Linked DNA regions of Homo sapiens: region 2 is reported to be linked to region 1. Evidence: microRNA targets listed by miRTarBase, many of them from high-throughput screens and not tested one by one. Region 1 holds a microRNA gene; the other region holds the end of a gene's coding sequence.
What was found. Region 1 holds the annotated microRNA hsa-miR-7856-5p (UUUUAAGGACACUGAGGGAUC, at 2,766-2,786, shown strand). A microRNA usually pairs through its seed, bases 2 to 8, with sites in the 3' UTR of a target mRNA and lowers its output. Matches are read on the target gene's strand: a 7mer-m8 pairs with bases 2 to 8, a 7mer-A1 pairs with bases 2 to 7 and ends in A, and an 8mer does both.

Region 2: the mRNA of NFATC2IP is a reported target of hsa-miR-7856-5p. Seed matches in the 3' UTR shown: 7mer-A1 at 3,578-3,584 and 7mer-A1 at 3,097-3,103.

The regions. Positions count from the first base shown.
Region 1 is chr1:86,353,327-86,360,450 of GRCh38, reverse strand. It overlaps MIR7856 (microRNA 7856), which reads left to right and starts at 2,764; the gene lies at 2,764-2,819. ODF2L (outer dense fiber of sperm tails 2 like) reads left to right here. Exons shown (of 17, transcript NM_001366781.1): 11 at 1-25; 12 at 1,560-1,664; 13 at 3,849-4,007; 14 at 5,592-5,677; 15 at 5,759-5,921.
Region 2 is chr16:28,962,926-28,970,025 of GRCh38, reverse strand. NFATC2IP (nuclear factor of activated T cells 2 interacting protein) reads right to left here. Exons shown (of 8, transcript NM_032815.4): 8 at 2,934-6,321. The coding sequence ends at 6,163. It overlaps NFATC2IP-AS1 (NFATC2IP antisense RNA 1), which reads left to right and starts at 3,582. Exons shown (of 2, transcript NR_186408.1): 1 at 3,582-3,610.

The DNA of each region.
Region 1 (7,124 bases):
CCTTATTGAAATGTATAAAACTCAGGTGACTACTGCATTTATTTTAGTGTTTACTAAAATTGGTAGACAATTTAAAACACTATTTCTTTGTAATCTAAATAAATAGAACTGAAGAGAGGTGGGGCTATCATTGTGGGTTATAATATGGTGTGTCTCAAATATTTCTTAAGGTCCCACACATCTTTATAAATAGATGATTCTGCTGATTCCTGATTCAAACACTGCATATGGATATACTGGATATTCCTAAAAGTAGATTTAAAATGAATTACATCGGTATAATGTGACCCTTAATGTATTCTTGTTAATCTTGGTTATATTTGTTTGTCATCATGTGTATTTAATGGTATTGATTTAGATTAATGACTCCCTTCTAGGGTCATTAAAGTTCATTATGCCTCCTTTCTCAAGAAATAAAGTATAATTCAGATTATTCACATGAAAGACCAAGAAAAGAACATATGACAATATATATGAAATAGACCATGTGTTCAATGGTAATTTATAGAAAACCTTTATTTTTTTGGAAATGTAGTATTCAAGAAAAAACTTCATAAGATGGGACTTATGCAGGTCCTTGCATGATGGTTAACACACTGGTCAGAGAGAGTTTGAATTAAAGAATAATGAACTGGCTGGGTGTAGTGGCGTACACCTGTAATCCACTGGGAGGCTGAGGTGGGCGGATCATTTGAAGTCAGGAGTTCGAGACTAGCCTGGCCACCATGGTGAAACCCTGTCTCTACTAAAAATACAAAAATTAGCCAGGTGTGGTGACATGCACCTGTAGTCTCAGCTATTCAGGAGGCTGAGGCAGGAGAATTGCTTGAATCCAGGAGGTGGAGGTTGCAGTGAGCCGAGACTGCACCAATGTGCTCCCAGCCTGGGCAACAGAGCAAGACTCCATCTCAAAAAAAAAAAAAAAAAAAAAGAATGAACTAAGGATGAAAGCTTAAGGGGGCCAAAGTGTGGGCAAGTAGGAAGGGGCTGCATCTCGATGGATTAGATGGGAAAATTAAGTTGAGACATCCAGTTAGAATATTTCAGTCATCCAGGTCTGAGGTAGGAATGGAGGTTGTGGTGGACTGTGGGACTTGTTATTCATCAGGGTCTTCCAGCTGGTTATTTGGGTTTAATCCCTCAGCAGGAATACTGTGGTTGAGTGACCATATTCTGGGTGCAGGGCCTAGAATTTTTTTTTTTTTTTTTAGCAGATTTTGATTTGGTGGGAAAAATAATTTAAATGGAAGCTAGTTTGGACCAGAGACTGATTCTTTGAAGTGACATTGATCTGCAAATGAAAATCTTTGTAGTCTTCAAAGCTCAAGTGGAGAGTTTAGAAGTATTGATGAGAGAAGACAGGTAAATCAGACAAAGATTGTGGGTTAGAGTAGAGCACTGAGTGATTCCATATTTAAAGAAGTAATAACATTAGATGAACCAGTCAAGGATATTGATAGGAAAATAATGACTTGTTTAAAATGAAATTTTAAATTTTAGATTTTTATCTCATGTTATGATTCTAAAAATAATATGTTTCTCTAATACTTTATTTTCAGGTACAAAAGTTGCAAGAAGCAGCTGAAATAGTAAAAAGCAGATGTGAAAATTTGCTACATAAAAATAACCAAATAACAAAAACCAAAAATAAAAATGTAGAGAAGGTACGTTTGGAATTTCAAATAAATAATATTTTATATATTTTTTACTTTATGAATAGTACACAAATTCATTCATTTTGGTCATTTTCTCTAGTTCATACTTAGGAAAGGGCTAGTCTTAGCCTCTGTAAGAGTTTGTTTTCCAAGGAAATAATGTTTCTTCCAGGCTGGAAATGTTGTTTGTTTATGTGAATGTTTTTTCACTTTTTTGTTAATATTTGGAAAATAGCATAAATGTTTAATTTTTCTGATGCAAGAGCAGACTTTAAATAGCTCAAAAAATGGTTATCAATCATAAGTATACAAACCTAAGTATCTCTCATTTTTAATCTCACCCTTTTTTTCTGGTTATAAATGTTTTACGTCTACAAAAGCAAAGCCAATATCTGCTAAATGCATTTTTGAAGAAAAATAATATCTTTTAAAAAACGATCATTTCCTTTTATTTGTTCTATTGCAACAGAATGAAGGGAAGGCCAGTGTTGGCGAGTTATGATGTTTTTGTGAATATTTTAAAATTTTTAAATGAAACCGCATCTCTGTTTGGTTTTTTGTGTTGTTTTGGTAAAGAAGCAGTGAAAGTTGTAGGATGCTGACTCCTGGCAGCAGAGGTCATGCGATGTTAGTGGTCGCTTCCATCTGAATCTAATAAGGTTACTCTCTCTGGGTTGCTCCCTATCTTAGGATTGAGAAGTCAGAGCAAGGCAATAATGTGAAGAAGAGGTCAGCCAGAGCAAGCGTCCTCCAGTTATACAGACATAAAGATAGCTCACTGAATGCACAACTTACTGCTTTCATGGAATTACTTTTCACCTATTTTTAGCAGGCCAGCGAATAAACCATTTCATGTCTTTTGGTCTCATTTTCTCATGAAACATACCAGTGCAAATGTCTCCTTTTCTGCTAGGCAGCACTGTAAATAAAAGCATATTTTACAATCCTGTTCAAATGACGGAAAGGGTTGGAGCCTGTCTTTTTCAGATACTGTGAGGTCACAATGTTTTCTAACTAGTATTTAACAAGACAACTATTTTTTTAATGAAATTTTTCTTTTTCTTACTTCACTGTTTTAAGTCTCCTGGTTTTCTCATGGCCTCTAAGATGTTTTAAGGACACTGAGGGATCCTTTGTTCTGGATCCCTCAGTGTCCTTAAAACAGACATTTTTCAGTCTGTTTTTTTTTTTTCCTGTTTTACTTTATATACCATCAGAATATGGATCATGTGTATCCTGTTAGTAGCCACATAGCCTTCTCCTAGCTCAATGCCTAGCACGTAGTAAGCACTCAATATTTTTTTAATTAATGAAATTTTTTTTAAAGGAGCAGTCCAAGGATGGCGACAAGTCTTTTTTCTTTTACTTTCAAGACAGTTTTAGGAAGCATTCCCTGTCTGTCTTCCAAATATAATCTGGATTTTAATTTTGCAAAAAAAAAAAAATACTGCATTATCTTTCCTGATCAAGAATGCCAGATACTACACAGAAACTATTAGGTGTTCCTGTCTCAGGGAAAGAGTCTGGCTATTTTTTGTAATTAGCAGTGCAAACATTTCTTAAGGTTGCTGCTTTTCACATCTCCACGAAAGTGCTGCAGCGAGGAACTGCAGTAGCCAAAACAGATTAATGTAGATGAAATTAGAGAGATTTGTTGATAGTAACATTAATGGCCAAATTAAAGGCAAGTGAGAACTGATGATACTAGCAATTTTTAAATAATATACAGTAAACCCTATCAGTTTTGGCTAAGATGAGTGAAGCAAGCTGCTCTAATTTAAGTAAGTATCTGAGTTATAAGATTGAATGACTAAAAGTGACAATTCCTTTAGAACCTATAGCTGGGCAGTAGACAATTACGGCTTTATTAGTAATGGTTATTAGTGATAATCTATGCTTGAATATAATGTCAGGATTTTAAAAATTTGCTCTTAAAAATTAGTTAAACATCCACCCTGTCAGCTAATTTACCCTATTTATGTGCTCAACAAACTTTTTGAAAACTAAAGTCTACCCCACTTTTTAGTTATACATTCTTATTTAACAGAGTTTAATATTTATTCAGTTGTGTTCTTATTTAAAGCCATTATACCTAAAATACTTACGTTATAAGCATATCTAGTATTTAAGATAATAAAAATATTAATGCTGAATGTGTGATCTTGCACTTATTTCCCTACTGCCACAACTCAGATGAGAGGCCAGATGGAGTCTCATCTGAAGGAGTTAGAGCGTGTCTGCGATTCCTTGACGGCGGCGGAACGGAGGCTTCACGAGTGTCAGGAGAGTCTGCAGTGCTGCAAGGGGAAGTGTGCAGACCAGGAACACACCATTAGGGAGCTTCAGGGCCAGGTGTCCAGCCGTCCTTCTGAGTTTTGCTAGATGCGTTAAAAGAATGCTTTGGAATGATTTCACCAGTTGAGGGCACTCATGTCAGGGCTTGATTTTTAAATTCCCATCTACTTAGTTCGTAAAACATCATTTTCATGCAGATACTATAATACAGTTTTGCAAGCTATTCTTTTAGTATTTTATGGTGAAAAATTGGTAATTAAAATTCTTATTTTAGTTTATTCATGCAAATCTATAGACATTTGAAGACATGGTAATAGAATGAGAGAAGGAGCAAAGTTATACTTACATATATGTTCCTTGATGTAAGGATAAGGTAAATTATTGAAACTTACATTACAAAAATTGAATTTATTTTAATTAGAATTGTACGTCAAGTTTTTTGGGATATTTTTCAGTCTGTTTCTTTTTCCTGTTTTACTTTTTATACCATCAGAATATGGATCATGTGTATCCTGTTAGTAGCCACATAGCCTTCTCCTAGCTCAATGCCTAGCACATAGTAAGCACTCAATATTTTTTTAATTAATGAAATTTTTTTTAAAGGAGCAGTCCAAAGATGGTGACAAGTCTTTTTTCTTTTACTTTCAAGGCAGTTTTAGGAAGCATTCCCTGTCTATCTTCCAAATATGATCTGGATTTTAATTTTGCAAAAAAAAATACTGCATTTTCTCACTTAAAAAGTAGGAGCTAAATGATGAGAACACGTGGACACATGGAGAAGAACAACACACAGTGGGGCCTTTCAGAGGGTGGAGAGTGGGAAGAGGGAGAGGATCAGAAAAAATAACTAACAGGTACTAGGCTTAATACTTGATTGATGAAATAATCTGTACAACAAACCCCCATGACACAAGCTGACCTGTGTAACAAACCTGCATTTGTACCCCTGAACTTAAAAGTTAGATAAAAATATGCAGACAAAATTTTAGTTTAAATTCCTGAGAAGAGATTTTTCTAGTAAAATGTCAAACGACATAGATTAGCCTAAATTACTAATTGAAATTATGAGAAAAAAATTTTTTCCTTGAATCAAAGCTTCTTACATTATTTAGAGCAGATTTTGAAGCAGTGGGAAGAATATTCTGTCTTGGCATGGGTGAGTGTGTCTTTGGTTGATTTGTTCACTTTGCTTCTCAAAAAAATATGTATTTTATTTACAGTTTCGACTTCACAGATACTCAATTATTAATCAGTATTTTTAGGTGAAACAGAAAACCATAAGAGAAACCCTAGGTATCCAAAAATAGGAGATTAATACTGCTTAAAATTTTCCTATTTCAACTTAACAAAATAAATATCTTTCTTCAATAAGGTGTTGTTCAAAGTGTTTTAATAGCCATCATCCTGAATTTTTTTTAGTTGGTTATTTTCCAATACAGGCAACATAACTTCTTTAAATTTAACCAGGAATTTAAAACTTCCATTTTAACAATATAACATTTTCTTGGTGTCTTTCTGTGTAAGAGTAGTAACATTTATACCTTCTCGTTGCTTGTGGTTGTTCTAACAATAAATTATATGGATTTCTTTGGAAGTTGATTGTGAAGAAAATGACTAAGAAAACTTTTTTTTTTCTTTTAGGTTGATGGAAATCACAATCTTCTGACAAAGCTTTCTCTGGAAGAGGAAAACTGTCTTATTCAGCTGAAGTGTGAAAACCTTCAACAGTAAGTATTAAATTACTTAACATTGCTGCTGCATATTTCTCTGCACATTAACATTTTAAAATATATGTTTTCTGTAAAAAGAAAATTAGAACAGATGGACGCAGAAAATAAAGAGCTTGAGAAGAAGCTGGCAAACCAAGAAGAATGTCTTAAGCACAGCAATCTTAAGTTTAAAGAGAAATCTGCAGAGTATACAGCATTGGCCAGACAACTGGAAGCTGCTTTAGAAGAAGGAAGACAAAAGGTATGCATGGCCTTTATTTAGAAACTTTTTAATTCATTTACCAAAGAGTCATCTTTTTAAACATCTTGCAACCTGTAGTTATTGTTTTTGTCCTGATGACAGGGTGAAGGGAGCAATTACATTTTTCTTCTTTAACTATCTTCCTTTTCAAGCAAAACAGATACATTGCTAGGCTAGAGCTACTTCACTAGATAAATGGTAATGTGGCTGGGGAAAGGGCAGAGATGGAAAACACTTTGAAGACATAATCTCCTCCTGTACCTTTTTTATATACAACCAAATTGAATGTGCAAATAATTGAAAATTTTTGTTTTGATCAGGATTCAGTGAGCTGTAAAGTTCAAGTCCCTTTTGACAAATATTGTTGCATAGATAAATACATACAATATTAAATTTCAGTTACATCCATTAGGTTAGCATTCAACGAATACTTCAGTATCAGGCAATCTGCTAGTGCTTGAGATGCAAAGATGAATAAGACCTGGCCTTAGCTCTCAGCACTCTCATAGTCTGGTGTAGGGTTCAGCCTAAGTGCATTTTGGAAATGCCAGGTATGCTCTCAGATTCCTTCCTGAAAGGAAGAGTTCAGAGTCCCAGAGGTATGTCTGCCCTCTCCTTTCTCTCCTGCTACAGTGGAATATGGGGCTATCTGTAGTTTCTGCCCACGTGAGAGTGCCATCACTGCCCTGTTACCATTGCCCACACTGAGGGGACGGCGCCAAGGGCGTCAATGTTTGTCCTAAAGGCCCTTTCTCCCATAGCTTCAGCTCACACTGGCATCTCTCATGCATAATTGTGCTTGGAATATGTACAGAAGAAATCTTTATAATAACTTAGAACCGAGTTCATAGGAATTAGGTTGGAGGACAGTCCTTTCCACTAGCTCCTTGTTCCTGGATCAGTCCCTGCCTCTACTCTCATTCTTGTGGCTCCAACCCAGCATTCTTACAAATAGGCTTCCTTAGAAGGAAACATATCTGATTCCTTAGATGAACATAACTAAGCTAGACTTCCTGCTAAAATAAGTAACCAGAGAAATATGAAAATTCAAATTCAGACCAGTTTGGAAGTGAATGAATGAAGAACCAGTCTCTGTGTTTGTGTGTGTGTGTTTGTAGGAAGTGTGTATACCAATTCCTGCTCCCAATTCTATTAATCCAAGTGTATAATGAGTATTTAACAAGAAATTTCTATGTTCCATCA
Region 2 (7,100 bases), not on the chromosome of region 1:
ATTTGTTAGGATACTACTGTGTCAAGGTGTCAGACACCAAGCAAGAGACTTTTTTGAGATGGGGTCTTGCTCTGTTGCCCAGGCTGGTGTGCAGTGGCACAATCACAGCTCACTACAGTCTCGAACTCCTGGGCTCAAGCAATCCTCCCACCTCAGCCTCCTTCCTGAGTAGCTGGGACTACAGGCATGCACCACACACTTGGCTAATTTTTTTTATGTTTGTAGAGATGGGGTCTCACTAGATTGCCCAGGCTGGTCTGGAACTCCTGGCCTCAAGTGATCCTCCCACCTCAGCCCCCTGAAGTGCTGGGATTACAGGCATGAGCCACTGCGGCCCAGCCAAGAGATTTTTAAGAAGAGTTTATTTTCAAGGAACTTACAGTCCCATAGGGAAGCAAAACCTGGATGCGTGGATGGGTGTACCAAGCCAGACTCCAAGCAGAGGTGGGACACACAAAAGACAATGTGACCAGTCCTACGAGGAGCCTTATGGAAGAACTGACCCTGAGTTGGAGGGGGTGACAGGGGTAGGGAGGTGGGAGACAGTAAAGGCATAGAGAAAAAAAGGCAAAATGGTATGTTGCAACTTCAAGTATGATCAGCTACATTGCCATCACTTGGGACCTTGCTGGAAATGCAGCATCTCACGCCCCACCTGAGCTGCTGATCCAGCATCTGCACACTAACAAGGTCCCCAGACAACCTGTGTGCACACTGACGAGAGTCTCTGGTCTCCTTGAGAATTCTGAGCCATACATCAGACCCACCTGCATCTACACCGGGCTGTGCAATGGGAGGCCCTGTGGTCTAGAGCACGTTCATTCATCTTTCTAAGCTTCTGTCTTTTTTTTTTGAGACAGCGTCTCACTCTCTCGCCCAGGCTGGAGTGCAGTGGTGCGATCTCAGCTCACTGCAACCTCTGCCTCCCAGGTCCAAGCAATTATCCTGCCTCAGCCTCCCAAGTAGCTGGGACTACAGGCGTGCATCACCATACCTGGTTTTTTTTTCTTTCTTTTTGTAGAGATAGGGTCTCACCATGTTGGCCAGGGTGGTCTTGAACTTCTGACCTCAAATGATCCATCCGTTTAGGCCTCCCAAAGTGCTGGGATTACAGGCGTGAGCCACTGTGCCCAGCCCTAAGCTTCTGTTTTTCTTCTGTAAAATGGGAATAAGAACACCTACCTCACAGGATTGCTCTGAGGATGAATAAGGTTATGAAAAGAGCCAAGGTTGGTATGTGGCACTGAGTAAAGGAGCATTAAAGTTTCAAGGGTCTCTAATCAGGAGAGTTTGAGGAAGATTATCCAGAGCCAGCTGCAGTGGTTCACACCTGTAATCCCAGCACTTTGGGAGGCCAAGGCAGGAAAATTGCTTGAGGCCAGGAGTTCCAGACCAGCTTGGGAAACCTAGGGAGAGTCCATCTCTACACAAAAGTTTAACAATTAGCAGGTGTGTTGTCATTCACCTGTAGTCCCAGCTACTCAGGAGACTCGGGAGGATTGCTTGAGTCCACAAGATCGAGGCTGCAGTGAGCTATGATAGCACCACTACACTCCAGCCTGGGTGACAGAGAAGACCCTATCTCAAGAAAACAAAACAAGGCTGGGAACGATGGCTCACACCTATAATCCCAGCACTTTGGGAGGCAGAGGCAGGCAGACTGCTTGAGCTCAGCAGTTCAAGATCAGCCTGGGCAACATAGTGAGATCCTACCTCTACAAAAGATACAAAAAAATTAGGTGGGCATGCTGTCATGCACCTGTGATCCCAGCTAATCAGGAGGCTGAGGTGGGAGGATCACTTGAGCCCCGGAGGCAGAGGTTGCAGTGAGCCGAGATCACACCACTGCACTCCAGCCTGGGTGATAGAACAAGACCCTATAAAAAAAAAAAAAGAAGAAAAGAAAAAGAAAAAGAAAAAGAAAGATCACCCTAGATATTCTTTTAGACATGTGAAAGGATGAACAATCTCATCATAAAAGATAAAGAAATGCAGTCTTTCCCATACCCTTCCCAGATTAAGTCAGGGGAAGGTATGAGGAAACTGGAACCTTCCAGCACTTGCTAGGGGACATGTAAAAATGTACAGGCACTTTGGTTAGCAATCTAACAGTATTCAAGAATTAGTGACCAGTGATTCCACTATCAGATGGAAGCCCCCGAGAAAAATCCCACACAGGTACCCCAAAGGGAACACTACATTGCTTGCAATAGCAACATCCTGGAATTTGAACTGGGTTTGGTTATAAGTGGTAGAAACCCTAAAATAAGTGATTTAAAGAGGGGCAGCAGTCCCTCCTTCATGTGAAAGCCGAGGTCAGCACTGCCAGGCCAATGAGGTGCTACATGGATGCTGTGATCCAGGCGCCTTCCCTCACCATCCTGGCCCATGTGGTTTCTGTTCCAGAGGTCACCTTAAGTCAGTAGGGCTGCTCCACTTCCAGTAAGCAGGCAGGAGGCAAGTGAAAGAGAGGGGACAAGCTGCCCGCTATGCACACTTCTGGGAAGTGATACCCCATTCCACTTACACCCCAGGAGCCTGTATTGGCACTTGGCTACATCTAGCTACAGTGGAAGCCAGGAAGTACTGTCTTAATTTTTTTTTTTTTTTGAGACAGGGTCTTGATTGTTGCCCAGGCTGGAGTGGGTTGGCACAACCATAGCTCACTGCAACCTCAACCTCCTGGGTTCAAGCGATCCTCCCACGTCAGCCTCCCAGGGTGCTAGGTAGATTCCAGGTGTGTGCCCCCATGCCTGGCCACTGTTTTTATTCTGAGTGTCTCTGTGCCTCGCTAAAAACCATGGGTTCTAGTACCACAGAAGGAGGAAGAATGGATGTGAAGGAATAAGGATCTTATTCCTGTCTCTGTCACAAGGATCTTAGTGGGGGTCACATGAGGGCCACAAAGACAAAAATCCTCCAGTATACACAAGTTGAACATATTGCCATTTATTTTGTTGAGGTTAAACATATAATTTTAACGTATTCAAACTTATTAATGGACATTTAAAAAGCTGAAAAAGTGAAGAGCTGTACCATGTCGTGGATTATTTTAATGTCATAAAATTCAAAGGAATGCCACATTTCAATAAAACATTTTAAGAAGTTGACATACTTTTATTAGAATCATGCAAATATTAGAGAAAGGTTAATGGCTTTTTTTTTAGTAGACATTACTGAGAAAACTGGCTCATTATATCACAAAAAGTGAAACTTGGATCTCATATATAAAGGTGTATTTCACTGAATTTTTTTTTTTTTTTTTGAGACAGAGTTTCCACTCTTGTCGCCCAGGCTGGAGTGCAATGGCGCGATCTTGGCTCACTGCAACCTCTGCCTCCTGGGTTCAAGCGATTCTCCTGCCTCAGCCTCCCGAAGTAACTGGGATTACAGGCGCCTGCCACCACACCTAGCTCATTTTTTTTTTTTTTTTTTTTTGTATTTTCAGTAGAGACAAGGTTTCAGTCTTGAATTCCTAACCTCCGGTGATCCACCTGCCTCAGCCTCCCAAAGTTCTGGGATTACAGGCATGAGAAACCATGCCCAGCCGATTTCTCTCATTTTTTTTTTTTTTTTTTTTTAAGAGACAAGGTCTCGCTGTGTTGCCCAGGCTGGTCTCAAACTCCTGGGCTCAAGCAATCCTCCTGCCTTGGCCTCCTGAGTACAAAAGTGCATCTCAAATAGTTTTAAAATGATGTGCAATATTTAGCAACCAGTACAGCCCAGCATCAACCAATTAGAAGAAGTGTCTGACTGTTGAGAACAGATGCAGCCAAGGTGTCACCCCGGTGTGTACCAGCTGGACTTCAGCACTGTGTAGTGTTCTCAATATGAAAGGAAAAGCTGAACAGCTAACAGGAGAAGATGTAAAATATCTTAACAACTCTATTAAATAAGCAATCAAAAAGCAACCAACTGCAGAACAAGATAATTCATACTGTCTACATTAAAATTAAAATTTTCTTTTTTTTTTGAGACAAAGTCTCTCTGTCACTCAGGCTGATGTGCAGTGGCACTGTCTCTGTTCACTGCAGCCTCCACCTCCCGGGTTCAAGTGATTCTCCTGCCTCTGCCTCCTGAGTAGCTGGGATTACAAGCATGCGCCACTGCACCCAGCTAATTTTTGTATTTTTAGTAGAGATGGGATTTCACCAAGTTGGTCAGGGTGGTCTTGAACTCCTGGCCTCAAGTGATCCACCCACCCCGGCCACCGAAAGTGCTGGGATTACAGACCTGAGCCATCACGCCTAGCCAAAATTAAGAATTTCTGTTCAGTGACGGATACCCCTAGATACAAAGAAAATTTCAATTTTTTCCCCTTTAAATCTTTTTTTTGAGTGGAGCCTTGCTCTGTCGCCAGGCTGGAGTGCAGTGGTGGAACCTTGGCTCACTGCAATCTCCGCCTCCTGGGTTTAAGCGATTCCCCTGCCTCAGCCTCCAGAGTAGCTGGGACTACAGGTGTGCGCCACCATGCCCAGCTAATTTTTTGTATTTTAGTAGAGACGGGGTTTCACCATGTTGGCCAGGAGGGTCTCAATCTCCTGCCCTCATGATCTGCCCGCCTTGGCCTCCCAAAGCCCCCTTTTTAATTTTTTTTTGTAGAGACGAGGTCTCGCTATGTTGCCCAGGCTAGTCTCGAACTCCTGGGCTGCAGCGATCCTTCTGCCTGGGCCTCCCAAAGTGCTGGGATTACCAGTGAACCTCCATACCCAGCCCAAATATGCATTCTTGGAATTATCTGCAATTGCCCAAGAATGTACAAGCAACTCCTGAGAATAAACCAAAAAAGATAAGAAACTCCATGAGAAAATGGGCAATGCACAGGAAGGGAAACCAGAAAGGCTAAGTGAAAAAATTCCCCAAATTAATGCTGATCAGATGAATGTATGTTAAAGCACTGCACCACTATCTACCCATGAGACTGGCAAAAATTAGGTAGTCTGGCAATACAAGTGCTGGCAAGGATAAGGAGAAAAGGGCGGCCTCAAGTAGGAGGGTCAGTCACCGTTCTAAAGAAAATCTGGAAAACCAAAGAGAAACTGACCTCTGTGACCTATAGGCCCATCCTGGGTACACATGCCACACAAGCACAGAAGGGAACACACGAAAGGATGTTTATCGTGGCCTGTATCCGGTGCCAAGGGGTCAGGGGCACCCAGGTGTCCCCCACTTTAGGCAATGTGTGTAAACTGCAATTGACATTGTGGAGTGCCACATGGCAGGTCAAAGCAATACTGCATTTCTAGAAGAGTCAATGGGGCTAGATCTTAGCACACATTGAGTGAAAACAGCATAAGACCTATTGCACAATAGCACTATGTACAGTAAAAGCACATATTCACACATGAAACGTGGTATTTTACAAATACATTCATATTCAAAGACATGGGTGCTTATGGGAGAGGATGGTGTAAAGAAAGGGAAAAAAGCCATAAAACCAGAGAATCTTTGCATGGGACTGTATTCCTGAGATCCCAAACCAAAGGGATGAATGTGCTGTTATGCCTTAAATGTGTGCACCAGGAAATGCAAACTAGAAAGGGTGGCTCTGAAGGGTCCTCAGGTGAGGAAGACCCCCAGGGCTGAGAATCCACCACCTTCATCCTTCAAAAGAGTACCTCAGTTGTCTGCTTACGCTTCAGCCAGCATGTGTGAGCTTGGTCATTTCCTGCAAGCCAGGCAACCACACCAGTGTATAAGCCTCAAGCAAATGTCACTCCCAAGCCCCAAATGGGACTAAGGCCTCTGCTGGGCTAGGCGTGGTGTAAATCCCAGGCCTGGAAGCTCCTACCCAACCCTCATTTGTTTCAACTCACTTTCAATATGTGCATAGTTTCATAAAGCAGACATTTCCATGAGGAAAAGAGGATGGTGGTGAAAGGGGAGGGGTGAAGGGACATCTCCAAGTCACAGAGGCTGCAAAACTCAGCATGACTTGTGGACGGAGCCACAGGCCACCCAGGGCAACAACACCCACATAACTCACCAAGTGGTTAACGGCTCTAAACCAGGGTCAACAGGAGAGGGGACAAAAGTCACTCCTTGATTTTGCTGCAGCTTAAAGATAAGTTCTACCTCAGCTTATGCTAGCCCTTATGGGGCAAAAAAGGGAAAGTCATTCTCCCCAAGTCCAGGCTGGGCCGTCAAACAGGGAGTGGGGTGTCAGCCCCAGACCTCAATGAGGTCCCCAGATTCCATGCCCAGGTCAGCTGGCAGCTCCCTGCCTGAAAGCTTTGTCCCATCAAAGAAGAAGGAGAGCTTCCGTCCCGACAGTCCCATGGCCTCCTCATAGTGGGACATGAGGGTCTTTAGAGGGGAATCCTGGATGGAGACAAAAGAAAATGGACGTCAGAACATGAAAGGGGGCGGGGATCCCGTAGGGATAGACGAGGAACTTGGGACAGGGAGGATGGCGGCAGGGGCGGAAACAATAAAGTCAGGGCCCCATGCGGGGAAAGGAGAGAGGACAAAGAAGCCAGCCCAGCCAGGCTCCTCTCTGGGAGCTGGGACGAATCCTGTCATCCCTCTGGGCTCCAAGTTGCTCAGGTAGAGGACGGGGGCCACGAGCCCAAGGCTTAGGGGTATAGGCTCTAAGTCAGGCAAGTCCTCCTAGCCTCAGCCTCCTTCCCTATGAAACAGAAGTGTGTACCAATGACTAAGAGAGCCCAGATTCTAGAGTGAGGATGAGTCGAGCTGGAGGCCAGGCTCTCCCACCTATTAGATATGTGACCTTAGAAAAATGTTACAGGTTATGTTCCCCAGAGAAGACACCTTGTGGTCTTAACCCCTGTTAAGTGTGAATGTGATGTGATTTGGAGACGGGGCCTTTGCAGATGCAATCAAGTTGAGGTTGTACTGGATTGGGACGAGTGCTAATGCCGTGGGACTGGTAGACAACTCACTGCAACCTCTGCCTCCTGGGTTCAAGCAATTCTCCTGCCTCAGCCTCCTGAGTAGCTGCAACTACAGGCACAGGCCACCACACCCAGCTAAGTTTTTGTATTTTTGGTAGAGACAGTTTCTCTGTTGCCCAAGCTGGTCTCAAACTTCCTGAGTTCAGATAAGCCACCCACTTTGGCCTCCCAAAGTGCTGGGATGAC